3 linked regions of the Homo sapiens genome follow. The protein of the gene in region 1 interacts with the protein of each later gene in a pairwise test. Each region holds a gene or a part of one and is shown in the gene's direction. Other genes may lie near its edges.

Region 1 (8,736 bases):
TGATCCACCTGCCTTGCCCTCCCGAAGTGCTGGGATTACAAGTGTGAGCCACTGTGCCCAGGCTAGACCCATACTTTTGGATATCTACATCTATTTTACCATTCTTAAACCCATGGATACCCAAAGTCTCCTATTGTTGGCACGTTCAAACTTTCCACCTTCATTGAACAAATAGGCATTTGAAGCTGTGACATAAGAGTACTGTCTGATGGTCAGTTTTTGTCAGTAACCATTTTTATCTGAAGCACAATGGAATTAGTTGAATATTTGATTCCGTTTTGTCCAGATTGTATTAAAATTAGAAAGCAAACTTATAAGTGATAGTGTGTTATTGGTCTCATAAACTTGACAGTTTTGACAAATCTTTTACTTAGTATAATACTAAAACTACAAAGAGCTTAAAAAAAAAAAAAAAGATGTGCCTACAGTTGTACCATCCCAACCATATTCTGACAACTTTTTATTTTTTGAGGGGGATGGAGTCTCGCCCTATCGCCCAGGCTGGAGTGCAATGGCGTGATCTCGGCTTACTGCAACCTCCACTTCCTGGGTTCAAGCAATTCTCCTGCCTCGGCCTCCAGAGTAGCTGGGATTGCAGGCGTGTGCCTCCACACCCAGCTAATTTTTGTATTTTCAGTATAGACGGGTTTCACCATGTTGGCCAGGCTCGTCTCGAACTCCTGACCTCGTGATCCACCCACCTTGGCCTCCCAAAGTGCTGGGGTTACAGGCGTGAGCCACTGCGCCCGGCAACTTTTTGTTCTTATAATATGCCTGAAGATTTTTGTATAGTTTAATCATGGAATATGATCTGCCCCACCCTGCCCCACCTATACTATTACATCATATTTTTCTTGTTGCTAGAGTCCTAATTACCAAATTAATAGGCACCTAATATTTGAGTTGATATGTCTATATATTTAGCTCAATCAAATATAGATTGTTTTAAAATTTTCACTATAAGTAATACAGTGGCTAATACCTTACTAATAAATGGATAATGTCATATAGCAACGTAGCTTACAGAGTTTGGAGGCAAGCTTGCATGCTATGGAGTCTACCAGAGAGTCATTGAAAGCAGAACTGGGAACTGATTTGCTTTCTCAACTGAGTTTGGAAGATCAGAAGAGAGTAGATGCACTGAATGATGAGATTCGTCAACTTCAGCAGGTAAGTAGACAGCTGACTGGAAAAAGAATTCGTTAGTAATTGGCTATTGTGAAAAGGGCCTTTCTTGCTAACTAGGGCAATATGAAAGAAAAGAACTGAGAAAATATTAAAATGAGGCTTGGACTTTTAATATACATAGGAGTAAATAAGATTTTGTTTTTCTAAACCAATCTAGCTAGGTTAGGATTATACAAGAAATTTTCATTTCCTTAAAATTTAGTTAATTAGCATTACTTATTAGTTGTAAGTATTGCTATGAGTTTGAGCTTGTTAGCCTTACCATATTTATCTTACTGCCTTTACATATTTAATGTTTTGATCAAGCATTTTAATTGATTTTTAAAACTGCATAGATGTAAACTACCAACACCGATTCTAAAAAATGAAAAGCATTTAAAGAAACTGTTTTTGACAGCATGCGTTATAAAAAGGGCCAGCCACAAAAATTTAACATTATGAATTGATAAGAGAAAAATGAAGAAAGTATAGGGCTTTTTTGAAGAATATAACATATTAAACTTCATTTCAGCTCACATGAGCACAAGTACTAGAGAGGACAGCAAATGAGCACCATTCCTGTGTGTGAAATGTACATGCTTATATAGACAACTTTTTCTTAATTCTAGGAAAACAGACAGTTGCTAAATGAAAGAATTAAATTAGAAGGTATTATTACTCGAGTAGAGACTTATCTCAATGAGAATCTGAGAAAACGCTTGGACCAAGTAGAACAGGTGTGTATGTGTTTTTTTTTTTTTTTTTAAGGGCTCCTTGGTGGCCATGACCTATTGCAAGTGGTTATATCAGAGGCTCTGATTGAAAGCATGGGCTTTGGGGACAGAAAGCTTAGTGTCTTGTGGGCCTTGGGTTGGAATTCTGCCACCTAGTGTGTGATTTTGGACAAGTCACTATTTCTAAGCCTCAGTTTCTTGTGTGAATTAAGCATTATCATACTTGTTTTATATAATTGCTATCCTGACACATTCTAAGTACTTTGTTAATATTTTTTCAGTGGTGGTTAGATGCTTAGAAATTTTCTAGTAATTGTGTCTTTTTTTTCTTCCCTTTAATGGATACTTCTAAGTATTTGTAATTATATGATGTATTTATATTTTTTTGTTTTCTTGAATGTTTATTCAGACAATAGCCATAGAAAATGTTGGCAGTCATAACATTTGAAACTAATGGAATTTGTATTTTTTGTTACAGGAACTTAATGAGCTGAGAGAGACAGAAGGGGGTACTGTTCTCACAGCCACAACATCAGAACTTGAAGCCATCAATAAAAGAGTAAAAGACACTATGGCACGATCAGAAGGTGAATTTTTATGTAGTAAAATTTTGTTTATATGCATGTTTTATAAAATTGTTTACTACAGAATGAAATGTCCAAATAGGCAGAAGCATATGCTAATGATTTTTTGTTTTCCATTATAAACAATGTATAGCAAATGGAATTTAGGAAGTTGACTATAAATAGTAACTTTTGTTTTACTGAAATGTTTATGACAATTTTGAGACCATAAATGATTCATTTTGTTGATAAAATATGAAATACCTGACGAAAGTTTCTCATCACTTAGTTGTTAGAAAATAACTATAGTTTATAAGCATTAACATTGAATAATGAAAATTATATATTTGAGTGACTCATATATACTTCTAATTTTGTACTGACTTAACATGGTTCATAAATTTTCACAGAAAATTTTAAACACAAAACCTAAAACCTATTTTGGTAGGTTTGATCATAAAAATCTATACTCAACATATAACACTGGCTTTATAGGTATTATAGCCTAATTTTGTTTCCCCCCATCTTAGATTTGGACAATTCCATTGATAAAACAGAAGCTGGAATTAAGGAGCTTCAGAAGAGTATGGAGCGCTGGAAAAATATGGAAAAAGAACATATGGATGCTATAAATCATGATACTAAAGAACTGGAAAAGATGACAAATCGGCAAGGCATGCTATTGAAGAAGAAAGAAGAGTGTATGAAGAAAATTCGAGAACTTGGATCACTTCCCCAGGAAGCATTTGAAAAGTACCAGACACTGAGCCTCAAACAGGTTGGTTTTAAATTTGAAGTCTTGTTACAAATTGCTCAGTATATAAATTTATTTATATGAATACATATTTTCTCTTTATAGTTGTTTCGAAAACTTGAGCAGTGCAACACAGAATTAAAGAAGTACAGCCATGTTAACAAAAAGGCTTTGGATCAGTTTGTAAATTTCTCCGAGCAGAAAGAAAAGTTAATAAAGCGTCAAGAAGAGTTAGATAGGGGTTACAAATCAATCATGGAACTGATGAATGTACTTGAACTTCGGAAATATGAAGCTATTCAGTTAACTTTCAAACAGGTATGTTTCGCTTTGTAGTTAAAACATACACACAGAGGACAAAAGCTTCCAGCTCTTTTCAGTTTGTAAAGATTTTAAAGCTGTTTTCCTCATTACCAGGTGAATCTAATACATGTGAACAAACCTAGCATATAGGTTTACAGTAACTTGAATGTTTTACACAGCCCTTAGAAGGATCTAGTCTGTTATCCTTGTTCTTAAGATTAAAAAATAATTGGTTGCTTTTAAATATTTTACTTAAGTGTTATATATAATTCTAAGCAAAATTTATATTTCAATCTGCTTTTGTTTTAAGGTATCTAAGAACTTCAGTGAAGTATTCCAGAAGTTAGTACCTGGTGGCAAAGCTACTTTGGTGATGAAGAAAGGAGATGTGGAGGGCAGTCAGTCTCAAGATGAAGGAGAAGGGAGTGGTGAGAGTGAGAGGGGTTCTGGCTCACAAAGCAGTGTCCCATCAGTTGACCAGTTTACTGGAGTTGGAATTAGGGTAAAATACCTTTATATTCCATTTTCCTCAGAGCATTACCATAATAGAATTTATAGTATCTTTTGCAAATCTGATTGGTGCATTATATGCAAGTTACTTTTGAAAGATGGTGGTGATTCTGCCCTTTAGGATATTAACTCATAATATGTTTATTTTTAGGTGTCATTTACAGGAAAACAAGGTGAAATGAGAGAAATGCAACAGCTTTCAGGTGGACAGAAATCCTTGGTAGCCCTTGCTCTGATTTTTGCCATTCAGAAATGTGACCCGGCTCCATTTTACTTGTTTGATGAAATTGACCAGGCTCTGGATGCTCAGCACAGAAAGGCTGTGTCAGGTACAGTTTCAGTACAGTTTTGGTTTTGTATTTAACAATAAGCTGGTAATATTTGCTGATGTATATATGAAAAAATCAAACTCAGGCAGTTTTGAATTTTAGTAAGAGTAAAGATAGTTGCTTTTTAAATTTTCAGATCTGCTGAAAAGAAATTTGTTAAAGCACAATTTTCTTTTTACAGATATGATTATGGAACTTGCTGTACATGCTCAGTTTATTACAACTACTTTTAGGCCTGAACTGCTTGAGTCAGCTGACAAATTCTATGGTGTAAAGTTCAGAAATAAGGTAATTTTATTTTACATTGAGTTTAAGTTTGTATTTATTCAATTATATTTGTTGAATTCTGATTTTATGTTACTTAAATAGTGAAAGAAAACTTAGAAAGTCTTTGCTTATCTGATGTCTTTGTAAAGAAAGAACTTTTCCTTCAAATAACTATGAAGTTTAGCAGTATTTTATGGCGTTGCATTGGTTTTATTTTCATTGGCATTAATAAACAATATCTTTCTGTCCAGTCTATTCAATGCTTCTGTAATGCACAGTCTTTAACAATTATATATGTTCATTTGTATAGACTGCATAGCTCTTCCTGGGTGTCTTCCCAACCTTAAAATTCTTGATGAAATAGCAAAGTAATAGAAAGTGAACAAAAAGGTAGTTTAGATGTTTAGGCATGATATTTATTTCTTCAGAGCATTAAAATACATATTTTTTAAATCTATGCATTGAACAAACACCACTGTAAATAAAGGTTTTATAAGTCAGTGCTTCAGAATTATTTTCCTTCATATGTAAAATATAGGTGATAGGCCGGGCGCAATGGCTCATGCCTGTAATCCCAGCACTTTGGGAGGCCAAGGCAGGTAGATAACCAGGTCAGGAGTTTGAGACCAACGTGGCCAGTATGGTGAAACCCCCGTCTCTACTAAAAATACAAAAATTAGCTGGGCATGCTGGCGTGCACCTGTCGTCCCAGCTACTTGGGAGTCTGAGGCAGAATAATTGCTTGAACCTGGGAGGCGGAGGTAGCAGTGAGCCAAGATGGTGCCACTGCACTCCAGCCTGGGCAACAGAGCAAGACTCCATCTCAAAAAAAAAAAAAAAAAAAAAAACTAAAAATTAAAAAATGTAGTTAAATGTAGTTGATAGGCTGTATATATTTACCCTATACAATGTAAACACTGATGTAATTAACAGATTTTTGTTTTTAACATTTATTCTTCAGGTTAGTCATATTGATGTGATCACAGCAGAGATGGCCAAAGACTTTGTAGAAGATGATACCACACATGGTTAATTGGAAAATACTACCTACTGGTTTGGGAGATGTATATAGTAATATGATTCTCATACCCAGGAACTGTAAATTTAAACCTAAATATTTGGCCAATAGTTTTCAGACTTAAAGCATCATAGTCCTTTTATATTTGTCTTTGTATTTTATAAGATACTCTGTAATGTCATGTTTGTACTGATAGTTTAAGAATTTAATTTCCTGTACAACTTTTTGTAAAATGTTCTGCTCCTATTTTAAATGTTTTGAAACATGCTAAATATTCTTTCCTAATTATTTTATCACTTATACTACCTTTTTTATAGCTTCAATTAAATAATCGGTTTTATGACTAATATAGTGTTTTATGTGGCTTTTCATTTGTCATAGTCTCTTCCAGTGAGAACACTAATCAGATTGGATGTAAGGCCTCATTTTAACTTAATCACCTCTTTAAAAGACCTGTCTCCAAATACAGTTAAATTTGAGGTATTGAGGGTTAGGACTTCAACATGTGAGTTTGGGAAGGGAAGCACAAAATCAGCCCCTACCATGGTATATTTATCATTGATACATTACTATCAACTAAGCTCAAGATTTTATTCAGATTTGACTAGTTTTTCCACTAAGGCCCTTTTTCTTTTCTAGGATCCCACAGAGGATACATTACATTTACTTACATCTCCTCTAGTCTGTGACAATTTCTCTGTCATTGTTTATCATATCTTGACAATTTTGAATAATATTCACATATTTTGTAGAATGTCCCTCAAATTAGGTTTGTCTAATATTTTTCTCATGGTTAGATTGGAGCTAATACCACAGAAGCGAAGTATTCTCATTACCTCATATAATAGTACATATTATTAACATGTTTTATCACTGATGTTTACCTTGATCACCTACCCAACATTGTACTTGCCAGGTTTCTTTGTTGTGAAGTTACATTTTTTTCCCTTTCCATACTACTCTTTTCTTTGAAAGTAGGTCTTTAAGCACTGGGGGTCTCCTGTGACCCTGGAAAACTACCTCAATAGTCCTCGTAGCTTTTTGTAGATTCTTTGAGATTTTCTACATAGACAGTCATGTCATTTGCAAGAAAGAGGCAGTTTTATTTCTTCCTTTTCAAATATTTACCTTTAATTTCTTTTTCTTGATTTCCCCTGGCCTGAGTTTATACTGGTTATCTGCAGGAGAATTTGTTAGGAGCTACTCTTCCATCATTGGAAACCAGAAATACCTAAAGAGATACTTTTAAAATAAAGAAATAGTAATGGGACTTTAAATTGAATTTAAAAATGTGAGTTTACTTTGGGTTTTCATTTTGACTGGCTGAATCTTTAAATGTTCGGTGTATTATTTATACTTTGTAGCTTTGCTATAACATAACTGATCTATAATAGAGAATTTGGTATATGTTCTATCTATGACTACATTCAAAGGGTTACGTAACTATAATATCTTTCTAATATTTCTACCATTTTTCTTACACATTTACCCAAGAATTTTTCTCAAACAACTACCTAAGAATATTCATCATGAATGCTTGGTGTATAGTTTACGATTTGTAGAGTTGCTCTGATATGACCAACCCCTTATAATACAGAATTTGGTGTAAGGTAAGTTCCAGGATTCAATTCAAGGGATGTTACAAACATAACATCATTCTAGAACTTCTTAATATTGTTCTTAAGCATTTCCCCAAGGATATTAGTATAATGAAATGCCAGTAAATTTATAACAATAAAGCATCTAAATAATGAAACAAAATTTTTGTAAAAGCCTATATTCTTTGCGATATCTTAGTCATGAATTAATTCTAATGAGACTGAATAGAAAAATGTGACAATCCTGAGCATGCTTAACCCAGAAACTTAGAGGAAGGACAGACATTTACCCAAGGAGTTAGCCAGTGATTCATAAGAAAATCTATGCTTCTCTTTGGCTGGATAGTCCTTTCCTCAGAGTAGTACTGATTCTTCCACTTTGAGATTTTGTTAATACTGTTACAAATACATTACATTCACCATAGTGGAATTGAAGAACATATATTTTAAGAGATGGTGGGGGGGGTCTCATCCCATCACCCACGCTGGAGTGCGGTGGCAGGATCACAGCTCACTGCAACCTTGAACTCCTGGGCTCAGGTGATCTTCTGCTTTGGCCTGCCAATATTAATATTTTGGGGCATTTCCTTCAAATCTTCATAAAAAGTTTTGTGGTTTATGTTTATTCTAGGTGTATAATTTTATATCTTAGATTTTTAATTTAGTAATAATATAAAATATTCCTGTTTTAATGCTTTGGAAACAAGATTTTAATAGTCATATACTATTCTGTCAAGTAGAAGTAGCATAATTTACTTAAATATCCCACTGGAGGCTTAGATCGTTTTCTTTTGGCTAAAGTACCAAAAATGAATTAAAAAACAGATCAACATTTTTATACATAAAACTCCCAACATTTAGGATTATTTTCCCAGCGTAGATTCCTAGAAGTCAGAGTGTGAATATTTGTAAGGATTTTTGTATACTCTTTATGCTCTTTTTGAAAAAAATGTAAAATATGAAATGGTTAGTATGTAGGTTAAGGATTTGTCTACTCAAAATTAGTGAAATAGTAATTTTAGAAAATGATGTAATTTATAGAAATAATTTTACTGTGAATAATATAATCAGTAGAAAAGGGAGAAATAGAAAGGGAGGATTTCTTTTTTAAGAGTAAGCAATAGCCGGTCGGGCACGGTGGTTCACGCCTGTAATCCCAGCACTTTGGGAGGCCAAGGTGGGTGGATCACAAGGTCAGGAGATCGAGACCATCCTGGCTAACCTGGTGAAATCCCGTCTCCACTAAAAATACAAAAGATTCTCCGGGCGTGGTGGTGGGCGTCTGTAGTCCCAGCTACTGTGGAGGCTGAGGCAGGAGAATGGCGGTAGCCCGGGAGGCAGAGCTTGCAGTGAGCCTAGATCGTGCCACTGCCCTCCAGCCTGGGCGACAGAGCGAGACTCCATCTCAAAAAAAAAAAAAAAAGCAATAGCAAACGGGTCTTTGGAAATATTTAGTTAATTCTTAAAAGGTGTTTCTCTTTTAACAACTATCT
Region 2 (8,736 bases), on another chromosome or scaffold:
TTTTCCTCCTTTTTCTGATGGTTTTAAAAATTGTTCTCTTCTCAGCTGGCGTTTACTTAAAGGTATATTTTAAATGGGAAGGTAGTGTTTGTCTTGGCCTTTTTTCTTTTTTTCTTTTCTCCTTGTTTCGGTTAAGGCTGATTTTCCCTATATTAACTTTTCTTTTACAGCAGCTTTTGTTACTCTTGTAGGCTTTGTTCTCTCGTGTTATGTCTCTCCCCTCTCCCCATATTAGAGAGAGATGTGGTGATGATAGTGATTGTTGTTAGGAGATGTTTGTATTAAGCTTATTTGTAATAAGATTCTACCGAGTTGGCTGTTGGATGAAAGTTGTTTAAATTGTTCTGCAGCTTTGTTTAACGAAGTAACATTTTGAGCAGTAGGCTTTATCAATAATTTGTTAGGCCTAAGATAAAGTGATACTCTGTATTAGGCAGGGCTTGCCCTGGAGAGGGGTGCAATGGTAGAAAATACCCAAAACTTTGTGGGGAAGGAATATTTCGGGAAGCTGTATTCTTTCTGCTTTACCTCTTGGGAAATTTAGAGACTGCCTTAGAACTAACAGGAGTGCTCAGTATGATTTGGCATACGGACTCTTGAATGACATGGACTGTATATAACGTATATTGGAAAAGAATACATTTGTGTTTCCTCTGTTAGTGTTAAAGAGCAACAAGAAAACTTAAGGATGATCTCCAACTCACTTATACATGAGAAATTAGGTTCAGATTTTAATTTCATTGATTTATCTGAGGTCACAGTCATATTCATGTGGTGGAACTGGGGCAGCCCTTAAGATATCCTGGAAGCTTAGAAGTTTCCCCATTGTCTTTTTTTGTTCTATTCAGGATTTAGCAATATTTATTAATAAAAATTCAGGGTAGTACATTACCCTCCATCCCCTTCTCACCTTTTTATTCATTTAACCAAGAATAAAGTTTTGTGGTTAGCCGTCTGTTTCAGCGTCTGGTTTTTAATAATTTCTGTTTAGGATTCAGTCCATTTAGGTTGTCTCAGAAGATAGCCTCTTGTAGGTCTCTGTCTCCGGGAGCCGTCTTTCTTTATGTAACATTACTTGACATGGCATTTATTTATTCTTTGTGAAACTTCTAAGAGTAATTTGGGAAAGTTAGTATTGACCTTTGTTTTGTTACAAGATATAGTGCGTGCATGAGTATGCGTGTATTTTTTCATTTTTAAACTCAGTTTGCTACACAAGTCATCTGTCACTTCTAGTTACAATAGGCGTTTTACTTGGTTTTCGTATTCCTGTTCGGGAATGTTAAAGATTCCAAAAATACTTAGTTTAAAAACAAGCCCAGTAGTTTCTCTGAGAGTGTATTTACTTTTTAAGAAGCTGCCAAATGGTTCGCAATTCTGACTCCTTGGAGAGTAGAGGTAAGAAGCCCTTTCCTCACACTGTTCTGTTACAACCACTTGATTCTAACCATTTCCCCCATTACTTGAAAAAGGTTTTAGAATCCTTTCTCATTAATTAGTTCAGAATTAAGAATAAATTTGCTGTGTTGAGACTGTAATTGTTTTAGCTGGCATGAGTGATCGTGCACAGTGAAAAAATCATGATAATAAAACTTAGATGAATAAAATTTATTTGTTCAAATCTTAAAGCCTTTGAGGTTTAAAAAGTATAATCATTGTGTTCTAATAATTAGACATTAATAATAAGTAGTAATTAAAAATACTTGGTTTAGCTATGTAAAACATAAAAGCTAACAGGCTTGGGGGAAAGACTGATTAAAGTAAGAAACTATTTTGAGGCATCTTTTTAAGGACTAAAAGTATTCCACTAGCCTGCCATTCTCTTTTTTGACGGATAATTACCTGATTCAATTAAAATGAACAGGTACAAAACTTCCATATACATACAGTACCAGGGATGATGCACTAAACAGGACTGAAGACACCCTGTCCTATAGAAGTGCAGAGTAGTGGTTGGCCATCCACAGCAAGGTGATGAGAGCTGAGACAGACCAGAGAGTAGGATCTCTGCTGTTACTTAGTTCCGAAGGAGCAGGCCCTCCTTCCTTTTCAGTGGCAGTTGAGGTTGCTCTTTTTATGTGGGAGAGTGAAATTAGCCAAGATTAGATCCCATAAGGAGAAGGAGGGGCTCTTATAACCAAGACCATTGTCTTTCTCTAGAAGAGGATGGTTAGGGACCTGAAAAGAAATGAGATTTTGTGTTTCCTTAGGTAAGATAGGATTCTTTCTCCTCAGAGGTGATTTTAGGGAAGTAATTGAAGATATTTTAAAGGAAAGCTCCATATCTCCAAAATATTATTTAGTAGCTGAAGTTCTACCAGGTAGTTTCAGTTAGCTTTCAGATATGGGATGCTTTGGGTTGGGTGTGGGGGTGAGAGTTGCAGGGGCAAGTTGCAGGGGCAAGATGCTGGGCAAATTGCAGGGGTGAGAGTTGCAGGCCTTAAGTACTCTATTAGGGGAATAGAGTACCTAAAGAATTGTGTATTTTAAGTTAAAAGTTATACAGGTATATGGTAAAAAAAAAAAAAATTTAATGATAGAGTAAAAAATGTTACTTTTTTCCTCCCCCCACAGGTAATCCACTGTTAACAGTTTCTTAAAAGTTTACTTTAAAAAAAATTGTACAAAGAGTATTGTTATACTGTTGTACTGTAATTTACTATTTTATTTATTTATTTTATTATTATTATTATTTTTTGAGATGGAGTCTCGCTCCGTTGCCCAGACTGGAGTGCAGTGGGGCAATCTTGGCTCACCACAACCTCCACCTCCTGGGTTCAAGTGATTCTCCTTCCTCAGCCTCCTGAGTAACTGGGACTACAGGCGTGTGCCACCATGCCCAGATAATTTTTGTATTTTTAGTAGAGACTGTGTTGGCCAGGCTGGTCTCAAACTCCTGACCTCGTGATCCGCCCGCCTCGGCCTCCCAAAGTGCTGAGATTACAGGCATGAGCCACCACGTCCGGCCTACTGTTTTATTTTTTAACTGTGATTTACTTTTTTCCTTAGTTAAGTCACAAGCTCTTTTCATACTGGCACATACAGATCAACATAATTAAGAAATAATAAGAATATTTTATTATAACATAATTTATTTTTTCTGACTCCTGTTGAGTAGTACTACGTTGTAATAGTTTACATTGACCAGCAGCGTATGAGAATGCCTGTGACATGTATTTACCAACATTGGACTTTAAAAAACTATATTGCCAATTTGATATATGAAATTTGTCTTGTTTTGGGTTTGTATTTCTTTGTGAGTGAAGGTAAACATTTGTTTATATGCTTATTAGGGGGAGGCCATTTGCAACATATTCTTTAATCAAGTGGTTTAATGCTAGTTTAATTTACTTGCTGCCCCCACCACCTACCTTCACCCTTACCTAAGAGCTAAGATGGTCTGAGAGAAGTGGGACTTTAAGAAGAGGAAAAATATTTTGGGGCTCATGGCACCTTGACGGGGAGCAATGCTCTGAATGGAGAGGCTACAGCACCTGGCTTTGAACAACTCTGGGTCAGTATGAGAGTATTGAAAGCCCTTGACTTGGTGTAAACATAAGGTAGAAGAGAAGCTGAAGCGACACACAGGAAGGGAGATTTGAGAGTCAGGGCAAATAAATTTTGTATAGAGTCAACCCCACCTTGTACCATCTGCTTATCCTGTCTCATCACTTCTCCCTCCCACCTTCAACTATCATTTCATTTTTATTCATACTGTCATTTGGTTTTCTCCTCTTTTCCTGTCAGGCATGGCAGCCTGGACCTGGGTATTTCAAATGCCCCAGAGATGAGGTGTGCTTAGTTTTTGGTTTTCTTTTTTTTTGAGACGGAGTTTCGCACTTGTTGCACAGGCTGGAATGCAGTGGTGTGATCTCGGCTCACTGCAGCCTCGGCCTTGGCAGGTTCAGGCGATTCTCCTGCCTCAGCCTTCTGAGTAGCTGGGACTACAGGTGCACGCCACCACGTCTGGCTAATTTTTTGCATTTTTAGTAGAGACAGGGTTTCACCATGCTGGCCAGGCTGGTCTCGAACTCCTGGCCTCAGGTGATCTGCCCGCCTTGGCCTCTCAAAGTGCTGGAATTACAGGCGTGAGCCACTGCGCCCTGGCCTAAGTAGAAGCTCTTGAGCACTTTTTCCCCCTCTGTCTCTTTGGTACTATTCCTTTCAGCTTTCGACTCTCCTAGCCTTCTGGGGTAACATAAATAGGTCAAGTCTTTATAGCTGTAGTTGGAATTCGGAAGGTCACTGGCATTTAAGACTTGAACATAGGAGCATATATCACAATATATGCTCCTATGATATATCAGGATGTGATGCTTGATAAGTGGGGTCCCTTTCTAAGGAATGCAGAAGAGCATGGTGGTTAATTTAAGCATATAGACTTAAGAGTCAAGACAGCTTGGGTTTTTATCTCCTCTAGCTAAACAAGCAATTACCTAATCTTACTAAATCTCAACTTCTTAATCTGAACAGTGGGACTAACAGCAGAAACCTCATTTTTAAAAGCAGCTTTATTGAGATACAACTCACATACCATAATCCATTGAAAATACACAATTCATTATTTTTTAGGATACTCATAGGTTTGTGCAGCCATCATCACAGTCTGATTTTGGAACATTTTTGTCTTCTGTGAAAAACGCCAAACCAAATGTAAATGAGTAGAGCCATTACGGAGAATATTATGGGGGCTCCTCAAGAGGTGAGAAGGGATAGAGAGAGGTTGGCTAAAGGCTACAAAATTTAGCTAGATAGGAAGAATAAGTTCTAGTGTTGTACTGGGTGACTACAGCTGACCCTTGAACAGCGAAGGGGTTAGGGGCACCAACCCCTGTGCAGTTGAAACTCCACATATAACTTTTATTTCTCTGAACTTTGGTAGTAATAGCCTACTGTTGATTGAAAGCCTTACTGATAACATAAACAGTCAGTTAACACATGGAGTGCAGTGGCACGATCTCGGCTCACTGCAACCTCTGCCTCATGGGTTCAAGCGACTCTCATGTCTCAGCCTCTGGAGTAGCTGGGATTACAGGCACCTGCCACCACGCCCGGCTAATTTTTGTATTTTTGGTGGAGACGGGGTTTCGCCATGTTGGCCAGACTGGTCTTCAACTACTGACCTCAGGTGATCCGCCCGCCTTGGCCTCCCAAAGTGCTGGGATTACAGGTGTGAGCCACTACGCCTGGCCTCCATTCTGTATTCTTAAAGCAAGCTAGAGAGAAGACAATGTTATTAAGAAAATTATAAGGAAGGAAAATATATTTGCTATTCATTAAGTGGAAGTGGATCATCGTAAAGGTCGTCAGCCTTCTTGTCTTCCTGTTGAATAGGTTGAGGAGAAGGAGGAAAAGGAAGGATTAGTCTTGTTGTCTCGAGGGTGGCAAGGTGGAAGAGAGAGAGGAGGTGGAAGAGGAGGCAGGAGAGGGAGGCGCACTGTAACTTTTACTGAAAAAAATCCATGTATAAATGAACCTGCACAGTTCAAACCTGTGTTGTTGTTACATATTTTCAACTAGCTAGAAGAGAGGCTTTTGAATGTTCCCAACACAAATAAATGATAAATGTTTGAAGTGATGGATATGTTAATTACCCCGATTTGATCATTACACATTGTATATGTTGAAGTATCACCATGTAACCCACAAACATGTACAATTATATGCTGGTTAAAAAGCATAAAAATAAAACCCCCGAACCTACTAGCTGTCACTTCCCATCACCCCTTATTTCTTTAGTGTTTGGGATAAGCCAGGTCAAATGCTTAGGTTGGTGCCAAAATGTAAGTACACAGTAAAAAAGCAGTTATAACTTTTTGCAGGGAGACTGTGTGGCAAAGTCCATTTACATAGTTTTAGAGAATGCAAAAATGGGATAATTACTGAATGGATGTTTGCATACTTCCATACTGTGCAAGGATGTGGTGCACAGTGCTGGCTAGAGATACAAAGATGAAAGATACTCAATCAAGAGATGTATATTCAAGTGGGAGGAAAGAGGCTGGTATAAAAATACTTATAAAACAAGCCAGAGTATAGTTAGTGCCTTCAGGAAGGGCTCAATACAATATTTGGAATTGGAAACTTGACAAATGGAGATTAGTCATGTTACTCTGAGAGTACAGGAACTATGAAAAAATTCTTGAAGGAGCAACCATTTTGACCAAGTCTTAGATGATGGAAAGATGGGATTTCTGGCTTTAATGAAGAGTAAAGAATGCAATGCTTTTTGAAGTCTTAAACTATTTGTTTTTGTTTTTGTACCCTCATGCTGCTGCCAGATGATTGCCTCTGGAAGCTATTCCTACACCTTTTTTTGATGTTTCTAATCTGTTATGAACCTGGGGGACTAAATTAGTAAATAATCTTTTAGTGAGAGCCTGATGTCTGTATGAAAAGGATACCAATATATGGTCTTACGCTGTCGTTTTGATATAGTTGCTTTTTTAGTTTATTCTGTGGGTCTTGGTTTCATCCCTGTTAATTGGTCTTACAGAATAAGTAATTCCTAGATAAATTAGCCTCATATACGTGTCTTCTTCTCCAAGGCTTCTAGTAACAACTATGTCCCCTGACCATTCTCCTGAATTTCCCATCTTCTTTTTCTAGTGCACTGTTGGACACAACACCTCCAGTACAATATATCCCAAACTGATCTACCTTCTCTTACTCTTTAACATCTTTCCAACTTGTACCTTGATTAATAACAGATTTCTTTCTTAAAAAAAAAAATGTTGTAGGGGATGACATGACTAGGTTTATCATCATGCTAGAAACCTGGGAGTCATCTTGACTTCTCCATCTCCCCTAACTCTCACATTACATAAGTTACCAAATCCTGTTGATTCTGATATAGTATTTTTAAAGGTTATTATTATTTTAAATTATATGCACATATATACTCCAAAAGTAAGACGGCAAAAAGGAAAAAGATACACAATAAAAAACCTCTCATTCCTTCCCCATTTGCCTCATTCCTAGACTCCCACAAAAGTTTATATATGTTAATGTTATGTTATATCCTTCTGGGGGTTTCAAAACACAACTATGTAGAAGGAACCACATACTTAAACAAATAGTAACACATAGCATGGGATTTCCACAATAGAGGTATACACAGAGTCTGTGAGAAGGAGAAAGAACCACCATGCATTCCCTAAAAGAAGAGTTAGGTATTGGAAAAACCTTCCTATTGGGTCCTGAATAGAAGATGAAAAGGAGAACTTTGGACACGTGAATAAACCAAACTGAGCTGTTAATAAGCAGAGAACTATCAATTAGACACAGAGACAAAGGGTCTAACAATAGGATGCTAGAACATTTCATTGTTTGGGGGGTTCAAAGGACCTATAAGGAAATAAAAGAAAATGCTGGCAGCCACACACAGTGGCTTACATCTGTAATTCCAGCACTTTAGGAGGCCGAGGTGGGCTTCTTGAGGCCATGGACTTGCAGTTACTTTGGGATCTAGCAAAGATTTCAGCGCATTGTAGATGATGAATATTTATTGAATATGTGTAATAATGTATATATACTAAACATATATGTGACAACCCAAGACAAGGAAAATTAATACAATATTAAGCTCACAGATTTATTTAGAAATATAAAATTTTATTTTTATTGAGGTGTAATTAAAATACAGTAAAATGTGCAGATCTTAGCTGTTCACTTTGATGAGGTGTGATGATTATACACATGTAACCAATAACCACAAGAAGATGTAGAGCATTTTTATTACCCCACAACGTTTCCTTGTTGCTCTCTCCATTCAATTTCTTTTGCCTCCAAACACTCTTTGATTTTTAAATGTAGATTAGTTTTGTTCTATCTTCATACAGTGTGTGCTCTTGTGTATCTGGCTTCTTTTGCTTAACATATTTTGAGATTCATCCATGGGGTTGGATGTATCAGTTTTTATTGCTAAGTAATATTTCATTGGGGGAATATTTCACAGTTTATCTTCTGTTGATGGACATTTGGGTAGAATCCAGTTTTTGACTATTATGAATAAGGCCTATACAGATCTTTTTGCAAGTGTGTGTTTTCATTTCTCTTGAGTAAATACCTAGGAATGGAATTGCTGGTTTGTAGGCATATGTGTGTTTAACTTTACAGGAAACTAGTTTTTCAAAGTGGTTTTCCTTTTTATATTCCCACCTGAATATATGAATGTTCTAGTTGTTTTACATCCTCACCAACACTTGGTTAGTCAATCTTTTTAATTTTAGCTATTCTAGTGGGTGTGGAAGGGTATCTCATTGTGGTTTTATTTTGGATTTCCTTGATATCTAGTGATGTTGAGCACCTTTTTGCATGGTTGTTGACAGTATATTTTCTTTCGTAGGATGCCTCTTCAAGCTTTCTGCCCATTAAAAAATGGATTATCTTTTTACTATTGATATGCAGGAATTCTTAATGTACTCACGATACAAATTCTATGTCAGATCAGAGTATTAAGAGTATTTTCTCCTGTTTTGTAGCTTGCCTTATCTTTTTTTTAACAGTATTTTGATGAGTGGAAGTTTTAAAATTTGATGAAGTCCAGTCAATCAACTTTTTGTTTTATGGATTGTGCTTTGAGTTCTTTTTATTTTTTATTTTTTTGAGACAGCGTCTCACTCTCCCAGGCTAGAGTTTAGTGGCGCCATCATAGCTCACTGCAGCCTGGAACTTTTGGGCTCAAGCCACCCTCCTATCTCAGCCTCCTGAGTAGCTGGGTCTACAGATACGTGC
Region 3 (8,736 bases), on another chromosome or scaffold:
ATTATGGCCCTTTTTATGAGGTGTCAGCTAATTTTGTTTAAGCATGGCAGTCCTAAGGTTAAGGTTTTAAATTTCAACCTCATGTTTGTTAGTTTTTTTGGTTTCTGTTCCACTGACATAGATTGTGGCCAGAATCTTAACAAATAAGTAATATTCTTCTTGTAGGAACAGCTTGAAGCAGTGGTTCTGAGTCAGGGCAACTTTGACCTCCAGGAGATGTTTGGCAATGCTGGAGACATTTTGGTTGTCACAATTGGTGCTAGATTGGAGTAGGGGAAGACCAGAGGCAGTGAGTCCGGCTAGGAAACTGTAAACAGTAGTCTAGGTGAAAGACGTTGAAATCTTCAGGTAGGGCTATGGCATTGGTAATAGTGACTAGGAAATGATTTAACAACTTTTCAGAGTTAGAATCAATCAGAATTGGTGGGAGGTGAGGGAAGCAACATTGTTGACAATGTTTCCACCTTGGGCCACTTGGCCAAATGTATTTTAGGGAATGAGCTTGGCCTCTTGCTCTTGGAGCCCAGTAAATGTACCTAATGTTGCATTTTAATGAGTACAGTATTTAAAATATTCCTGTGGTTTAGTTTTCAGACTCTTAATTTGGTTCTGCAATTTGTTGCCTTTTTGGAAGGAATAAGACAACAGTTCCTTTCATTAAAACAAATCTGTGTGCGGCGGCGGGATCTCAGCTCACTGCAACCTCCACTTCCCAGGTTCAAGCTATTCTGCCTCAGCCTCCCAAGTAGCTGGGACTACCAGCGTGTGCCACCACACCCGGCTAAATTTTTTTTTTTTTTTTTTTTTTGAGACGGAGTCTTGCTCTGTCACCTAGGCTGGAGTGCAGTGGCGCGTCTCGGCCCACTGCAACCTCCACCTCCCGGGTTCAAGCAATTCTGCCTCAGCCTCTCTAGTAGCTGGGATTACAGGTGCCTGCCACCACGCCCAGCTAATTTTTGTATTTTTAGTAGAGATGGGATTTCACTATGTTGGTCACTTTGGTCTCGATCTCCTGACTTCGAATGATCTGCCTGCATCGGCCTCCCAATATGCTGCGATTACAGGTGTGAGCCACTGCTCCCAGCCCCTTTCATTAAAACAAATCTTGGGCCTGGTGTGGTGGCTCCAGCCTGTAATCCCAGCACTTCGGGAGGCCGAGGCAGGCAAATCACCCGAGGTCTGGAGTTCTACTAAAAATACAAAATTAGCTGGGCGTGGTGGCGCATACCTGTAATCCTAGCTACTGGGAGGCTGAGGCAGGAGAATCGCTTGAACCCGGGAGGCGGAAGTTTTGATGAGCGGAGATCGCGCCATTGCACTCCAGCCTGGGCAACAGGAGTGAAACTTCATCTCAAAAAAGTAAAATAAAATAAATAAAGCAAATATTGATACTAAAGATTATACATGAATTGAGCTGCTTGATTGATGCTTCTAAAAGTTACACTGTTTTGGGAGTGAGAAATTATGAAATATAAAACTTAAACAATTGATGGATCGTTAATATTTATTGTTTTCAAATTAAGAATATTGAAACCTTGAATTCTAATGTTGGATAATTTGGTTAAAAAATGGAAAGTTGATGTGTTAGCAACCGCTCTGTTGACATGACTCATGGAACCTGTGAAGAAGCTGGTCTCATAGTATTAAGTGGTGGTATAGGAGCAGCTTGGGGATAGCACCTGGCATATTGGAATGGATGAGGTCTGGCACCCTGAGCAGTCCAGCGAGGACTTGGTCTCAGTAGAGCAGTTTGGCTAGGAGGAGAGTATGCAGCACGGTTTTTATTTATTTTTGAGACAGAGTCTCGCTCTGTCGCCCAGGCTGGAGTGGGTGCGATCTCGGCTCACTGTAAGCTCCGCCTCCCGGGTTCACGCCATTCTCCTGCCTCAGCCTCCCGAGTAGCTGGGACCACGGGCGCCCGCCATCATGCCCGGCTAATTTTTTGTATTTTTTTAGTAGAGACGGGTTTCACCGTGTTAGCCAGGATGGTCTCGATCTCCTGACCTCGTGATCTGCCCCTCTTGGCCTCCCAAAGTGCTGGGATTACAGGCGTGAGCCACCGCGCCCGGTCTTGCAGCACGGTTCTGAGTCTGTGGAATAGCTGCCATGAAGTAACCTGAAGGAGGTGCTGGCTGGTAGGGGTTGATTACATGGTTGGGCACAGCTCGTACACTTGCCATTCTCTGCATATGCTGGTTAGTGAAGTGAGCCTGGCACTCTTCTTTGCGCTGAGCTAAAGCTACATACGATGGTTTTGTGGCCACAGTTCTACCGTTCATTTCTGTAACTGCTTTAGTGGCTTCTTCCGGGAAGGAGAAACATACGAAACCAAACCCTTTGCTGTGACCACCCTCCATCATAGCCTTTGCACTAGTGATTGTACCAAATGGAGAAAACTCTTTCTGGAGACGTTCATCATCAATACTATCATCAAGATTTTTCACGTAAATATTAACACCCTGGTATCTGCTGGCTGCAGCTACTCCTGCTGTCCACACCGTTCCACAGTATAAATATGCTGCGGGAGTTCGCAATCCTCAGCAACATCTTAATGCACAGCCACAAGTTACAATGCAACAGCCTGCTGTTCATGTACAAGGTCAGGAACCTTTGACTGCTTCCATGTTGGCATCTGCCCCTCAAGAGCAAAAGCAAATGTTCATATGCTCGAGAGTCCAGAGTCACTCTGTTCTAAGGTTCATGAAGCTAGCTATATTACAAGCCCACCAAGCTAAAGAGGCTACCCAGAAAGCAGTTAACAGTGCCATTGGTGTTCCTGCTGTTTAAAATTGATCAGAGACCACGAAAAGAAACTTGTGCTTCACCAAAGAAAAATATCTAAACATCGAAAAACTTAAATATGGAAAAAAAAATTGCAAAATATAAAATAAATTTAAAAAGGAAAGGAAACTTTGAACATTATGTACCGAGCAAATGCCAGGTCTAGCAAACATAATATTAGTCCTAGATTACTTATTGATTTAAAAACAAACAACAAAAAAAACCCCACAAAAAATAATAAAATATAAAGACAAATTAATGTTTTATAGATCCTGGGAAAAATAATTTTCAGCAAAGTACAAAAATTTAAAGCATTCCTTGTAATCTTTACTGTGGAATAGCTCAAAATATCAGTTCTGTTTTAAGTAACAGAATTGATAACTGAGCAAGGAAGCGTAATTTGGATTATAAAATTCTTTTTTTAATAAAAAATTCCTTAAACAGTGAAAAAAAAAAAAAGGAAAGTTGTGGTTGGGTACAGGGGCTCATGCCTGTAATCCCAGCATTTTGAGGGCTGAGGCAGGAGGATCATTTGAGCCCAGGAGGTTCAGACCTGGGCAACATAGACCCTGTCTCAATTTTATTTTTATTTTTTATTTATTTATTTATTTTTTGAGACGGAGTCTCGCCCTGTCGCCCAGGCTGGAATGCAGTGGTGCAATCTTGGCTCACTGCAAACTCCGCCTCCCGGGTTCAAGCGATTCTCCTGCCCCAGCCTCCCAAGTAGCTGGGATTAGAGGTGCGTGCCACTATGCCCAGCTAATTTTTGTATTTTTAGTAGAGACGGAGTTTCACTATGTTGGTCAGGCTGGTCTCGAACTCTTGACCTCGTGATCCGCCCACCTCGGCCTCCCAAAGTGCTGGGATTACAGGCGTGAGCCACCGCGCCCAGCCAACCGTGTCTCAATATTATTTTTTTAAGGTGTGTTGGGAAAGTTATGACTACTTATGTACATTTTCTGTTTGAAAATCGATTATCAGAAGTACTGTTAACTATAAATGGACATACAATCCAGTGGAGAATGAGCATCGAGTTTGATTATCCATTTGTTATGAGTTCTTTTGGAAGTTAAAATCGACGTTCATATCAACCAACTTCAATGTCCTACTGCCAAAATGTTTTCTGAAAAATTCTTTTGATTTTGTATTTCTTCTGCCTTCCTTTCTATTTTGACTTTGTACTTAATTAGGGATCCTTCTTTAAAGTATTATGTCTCATTGGAAATGTAGATTTTTAACAATACTTAAGTATTTTTGAAATTTTGTTTTTTTATTAGAATCTTAGTTATTGATAATTTTATAAATTCAGGAGTTTATTATTATTATAACATAGCAACAGTGTTGAAATGCTGTACAAACACAAAGAGAGCTTAAGCCCGGACGCAGGGGCTCATGCTTGTAATCCTAGCCCTTTGGGAGGCCAAGGCAGGTGGATCTCTTGAGCTCAGGAGTTCGAGACCAGCCTGGCCAACATGGTGAAACCCCATCTCTACTAAAAATACAAAAATTAGCCAGGTGTGGTGGCACACCTCTGTAATCTCAGCTACTCCTGTGGCTGAGGCATGAGAATCACTTAAACCCAGGAGGCAGAGGTTGCAGTGAGGCATTATGCCACTGCACTATAGCCTGGGTGACAGCAGAGTGAGACTCTGTCTCATTAAAAAAGACCTTAAAGGCAGGCCCGGTGCGGTGGCTCACGCCTGTAATCTCAGCACTTTGGGAGGCCGAGGCGGGTGGATCATGAGGTCAGGAGATCGAGACCATCCTGGCTAACACAGGTGAAATCCCATCTCTACTAAAAATACAAAAAAATTATCCAGGCGTGGTGGCGGGGCCTGTAGTCCCAGCTACTTGGAAGGCTGAGGCAGAATTGCATGAACCCAGGAGGCGGAGCTTGCAGTAAGCCAAGATCCCACCACTGCACTCCAGCCTGGGTGACAAAGCGCGACTCTGTCTCGAAAACAAACAAACAAAACAAAACAAAAAACATCTTAAAGGCAATTACAAAGGAATTCAGCGGTGTTTGGTCCTGTTCTCGTCAGTTTTCAAGAATGGAACAAGGCTGGGTGTGGTGGCTCATGCCTGTGTAATCCCAGCACTTCAGGAGGTCAAGGTGGGAGGAACACTTGAGCCCAGGAATTTGAGATAGGCCTGGGCAACATGACAAAAACCTATCTCTACAAAAAATGCAAATATGGTCGTAGCTACTCAGGAGGGTGAGGTGGGAGGATCACTCAAGCCCAGGAAGGTCAGGGCTGCAGTGAACCGTGATCCTACCACTGCACTCCAGCCTGGGTGACCGAGTGAGACCTTGTCTTAAAAAAAAAAAAAAAAAAAAAAAAAGGAACAAGCGGTTTTACAGTGGAACCATAATCTTAGAATTAGAAGGATCTTAAAGGAAATTCTGGAACCTCCTCTTACTTCACAGATAATGAAAGTTAGGCCAAAGTATTCAAGTAACCTTTACCAAAATCAGTCACAGGGCAGTTTAGTGGCAGAGGGCAGGGGCAATAACGCCATATTTACTTTGGTTGTTATATAGTTGCTTTCTTCTAAGGAATCTAAACTAAGTAGAACTAAAAAGTTGTAACTTTTATCATGTAGTTGAAGACATTACAGTGAAATGTGAAGAGAATGAGAGTGAGTTTGGTCTTTTGTAGGGAGAAAAAGGACAGCTTTTTTTTTTTTTTTAAGCATTTGAGAGAAACTATTGTGAAGCTTTGAAGCTTCGTTGACAATAATTCTTAGAGTATGTCTTTGAAAGAGCTAAGATATGTTTTCCTATACTAGAGCTTTTCATTCCTGTTTCCAGGGCATTACTTTACCTATTTTTGTTATGTCAGGCCACAGTGGTCTTCGGTTGGTTTCCTGAACATGCCATGTTTATTTCTGTCTAGACAGGTTCCTTACATTAAATAGCCCATGTGTTCATTTGTCATTCATTTGTTACTTCTTAAGGGAAGCCTTTAAGGTTCTACATTACAGGCTGGGCGCGGTGGCTCACGCCTGTAATCCCAGCACTTTGGGAGGCCAAGGTGGGTGGATCACGAGGTCAAGAGTTCGAGACCAGTCTGACCAACATAGTGAAACCCTTTTTCTTGGAGCCGAGATCACATCACTGCATTCCAGCCTGGGCAACAGGGCGAGACTCTGTCTCAAAAAAAAAAAAAAAAGATTCTACATTACATACCCTTCAACTCCTTCATATTACATTTATCCATACATTTATTTGGTTTGTCTCTTTAGCTTCTCTGTAAACCTTATTAATACAGATACCGTGTCTGTTTTTCATTCCTCTCAGTGCCAAGCTTAATGCCTGGCACATAATTGGGTGCTGAACAAATACTTGTTAAGTGAATGAATGAATATTTTGTATTAATACTGAATTAGAGAAATATTTTTATTTTTGAAAGTAAAGGATAATTTGAAAAAATTTCAAATTGCAGCTAAGGACTTTCCTTTTTTTTGAGACCAAGTTTTGCTCTTGTTGCCCAGGCTGGAGTGCAATGGCCTGATCTCGGCTCACTGCAACCTCTGCTTCCTGGGTTCAAGTGATTATCCTGCCTCAGCCTCCTGAATAGCTGGGATTATAGGCATCCACCACCACGCCTGGCTAACTTTGTATTTTTAGTAGACACGGGGTTTTACCATGTTGGTCAGGCTGGTCTCGAACTGGTGACCTCAGGTAATCCACCCACCTCGACCTCCCAAAGTGCTGGGATTAGGGCGTGAGCCACTCTGCCTGGCTAGGACTTTTCAAACTAAGGAGTTTGTGTCTTAGAGATGGTAACATAGGTACAGTACTTAGAATTTTGGAGTCAACAGGTAGTTCAGAGGTTATGTATTTCTGTTCTAATTTTTCAGGTGAAGAAACTGACCATTTGATAGGTTGTGAACAACGCTAGTCACCTAAAGCTGAAAAGTGTCATTAACTTCTGCTACTTAGATAATAGAAGTTACAATTATATATTAATTGACAAATATTAAAACCATACTAAAGTTAGCTATGTGGAAGGATGGCCAATAGTTTAGTATCATTGTTACATTAAGAATCACAAATAGCTGGCACGGTGGCTTACGCCTGTAATCCCAGCACTTTGGGATGCCTAGGCGGGCGGATCACCTGAGGTCAGGAGTTCAAGACCAGCCTGACCAACATGGAGAAACCCCGTTTCTACTAAAAATATAAAATTAGTTGGGTGTGGTGGCACATGCCTGTAATCCCAGCTACTCAGGAGGCTGGGGCAGTAGAATCCCTTGAACCTGGGAGGCAGAGGTTGCAGTGAGCCGAGATCACGCCACTGCACTCCAGCCTGGGGGACAGGGCAAGACTCTGTCACGAGAAAAAAAAAAAGTAAAAGCATACACTGAGCAAGTGATTTTTTAAAAAATTCATATTACAGGCCGGGCACAGTGGCTCATGCATGTAATCCCAGCACTTTGGAAGGCCGAGGTGGGTGAATCACCTGAGGTCGGGAGTTCGAGACCAGCCTGACCAACGTGGAGAAACCCTGTCTCTACTAAAAATATAAAATTAGCCGGGTGTGGTGGCGCATGCCTGTAATCTCAGCTACTCAGGAGGCTGAGGCAGGAGAATCGCTTGAACCCAGGAGGCGGAGGTTGTGGTGAGCCGACATGGTGCCATTGCACTCCAGCCTGGGCAACAACAGTGAAACTCTGTCTCAAAAAAAAAAAAAAAATTAATATTATAATTAAGTAATCTAAGCACCATTGCACTCCAGCCTGGGCAACAAGAGCGAAACTCCATCTCAAAAAAAAAAAAAAAGAATCACAAATAGCCATCCTCCCATATAGTTGTGGGTTCTGAAACTAATACAGGGTTCACATCTAATAAGTGACATTTAAAATACACTTATAGGTCTGGTGTCCTCTGGCTTATGCCTGTATTTCCAGCACTTTGGGAGGCTGAAACGGGCAGATCACTTGAGCTCAGGAGTTTGAGACCAGCTTGGGCAATATGGCAAAACCTCATTTACAATAAAAATTAAAAAAATAAAATACACTTATAAATAGCTGTGCAAATTCCATAAAGGGCTTAATGGAATTAAGTTAGTTATGTAGTATATCCTATATCATGGATTACTACAGAGCTATTTACTATACACATACTTTGTTTCTTTCTTTCTTGCTACTTTGGAGGTAAGAGGGCCTTGATAATTATTGGTGTTTTTTTTGTTTGTTTGTTTGTTTGTTTTTAAGATGGAGTCTCTCGGTCTGTTGCCAGGTTGGAGTGCAGTGGCGCAATCTCAGCTCAGCCTCCTGAGTAGCTGGGACTACAGGCTTCTGCCACCACACCCAGCTAATTTTTGTATTTTTAGTTAGAGACGGGGTTTCACCATGTTGGCCAGGCTGGTCTCGAACTCCTGACCTCATAATCTGCCTGCCTTGGCCTCCCACAGTTCTGGGATTACAGGAGAGAGCCACTGTGCCTGGCCTTTTTATTTTTATTTTATTTATTTATTTTTTGAGATGGAGTCTTGCTCTGTCGCCCAGGCTGGAGTGCAGTGGCGCGATCTTGGCTCACTGCAACTTCCGCCTCCTGAGTTCAAGCAATTCGCCTGCCTCAGCCTCCTGAGTAGCTGGGGTCACAGGCGTGCACCACCAGGCTTGGCTAATATTTTGTATTTTTAATAGAGACGGGGTTTCACCATGTTGGTCAGGCTTGTCTCGAACCCCTGACCTCGTGATCCACCCACCTCGGCTTCCGAAAGTGTTGGGATTACAGGCATAAGCCACCACGCCAGGCATTTCTTGATTTTTAAACGGAGGGATGGATAGAGTGAAATTTGTTTCTTTTCTTTTCTTTTTGAGATGGAATCTCACTCTGTTGCCCAGGCTAGAGTACAGTGGCAAGCTCTTGGCTCACTGCAACCTCTGTCTCCCAGGTTCAAGCAATTCTCCTGCTTCAGCCTCCTGAGTAGTTGGGATTACAGG

What was found. Proteins that work in one complex are often made in the same cells at the same time.
Region 2: the proteins of SMC3 (region 1) and PDS5B interact in binary tests that used the Homo sapiens proteins (3 or more experiments, as listed by UniProt).
Region 3: the proteins of SMC3 (region 1) and PDS5A interact in binary tests that used the Homo sapiens proteins (3 or more experiments, as listed by UniProt).

Annotation. Positions count from the first base shown.
Region 1 is NC_000010.11:110,598,643-110,607,378, forward strand, and holds the end of SMC3 (structural maintenance of chromosomes protein 3), read left to right. Parts: intron 1-1,011; coding exon 1,012-1,170; intron 1,171-1,796; coding exon 1,797-1,904; intron 1,905-2,379; coding exon 2,380-2,488; intron 2,489-2,994; coding exon 2,995-3,242; intron 3,243-3,323; coding exon 3,324-3,536; intron 3,537-3,831; coding exon 3,832-4,023; intron 4,024-4,182; coding exon 4,183-4,360; intron 4,361-4,541; coding exon 4,542-4,648; intron 4,649-5,588; coding exon 5,589-5,660; 3' UTR 5,661-7,406; downstream 7,407-8,736. UniProt on the Homo sapiens protein: Central component of cohesin, a complex required for chromosome cohesion during the cell cycle. The cohesin complex may form a large proteinaceous ring within which sister chromatids can be trapped.
Region 2 is NC_000013.11:32,588,449-32,597,184, forward strand, and holds part of PDS5B (sister chromatid cohesion protein PDS5 homolog B), read left to right. Parts: intron 1-8,736. UniProt on the Homo sapiens protein: Regulator of sister chromatid cohesion in mitosis which may stabilize cohesin complex association with chromatin. May couple sister chromatid cohesion during mitosis to DNA replication.
Region 3 is NC_000004.12:39,967,179-39,975,914, reverse strand, and holds part of PDS5A (sister chromatid cohesion protein PDS5 homolog A), read left to right. Parts: intron 1-1,575; exon of another isoform or gene 1,576-1,780; intron 1,781-2,084; exon of another isoform or gene 2,085-2,472; intron 2,473-8,736. UniProt on the Homo sapiens protein: Probable regulator of sister chromatid cohesion in mitosis which may stabilize cohesin complex association with chromatin. May couple sister chromatid cohesion during mitosis to DNA replication.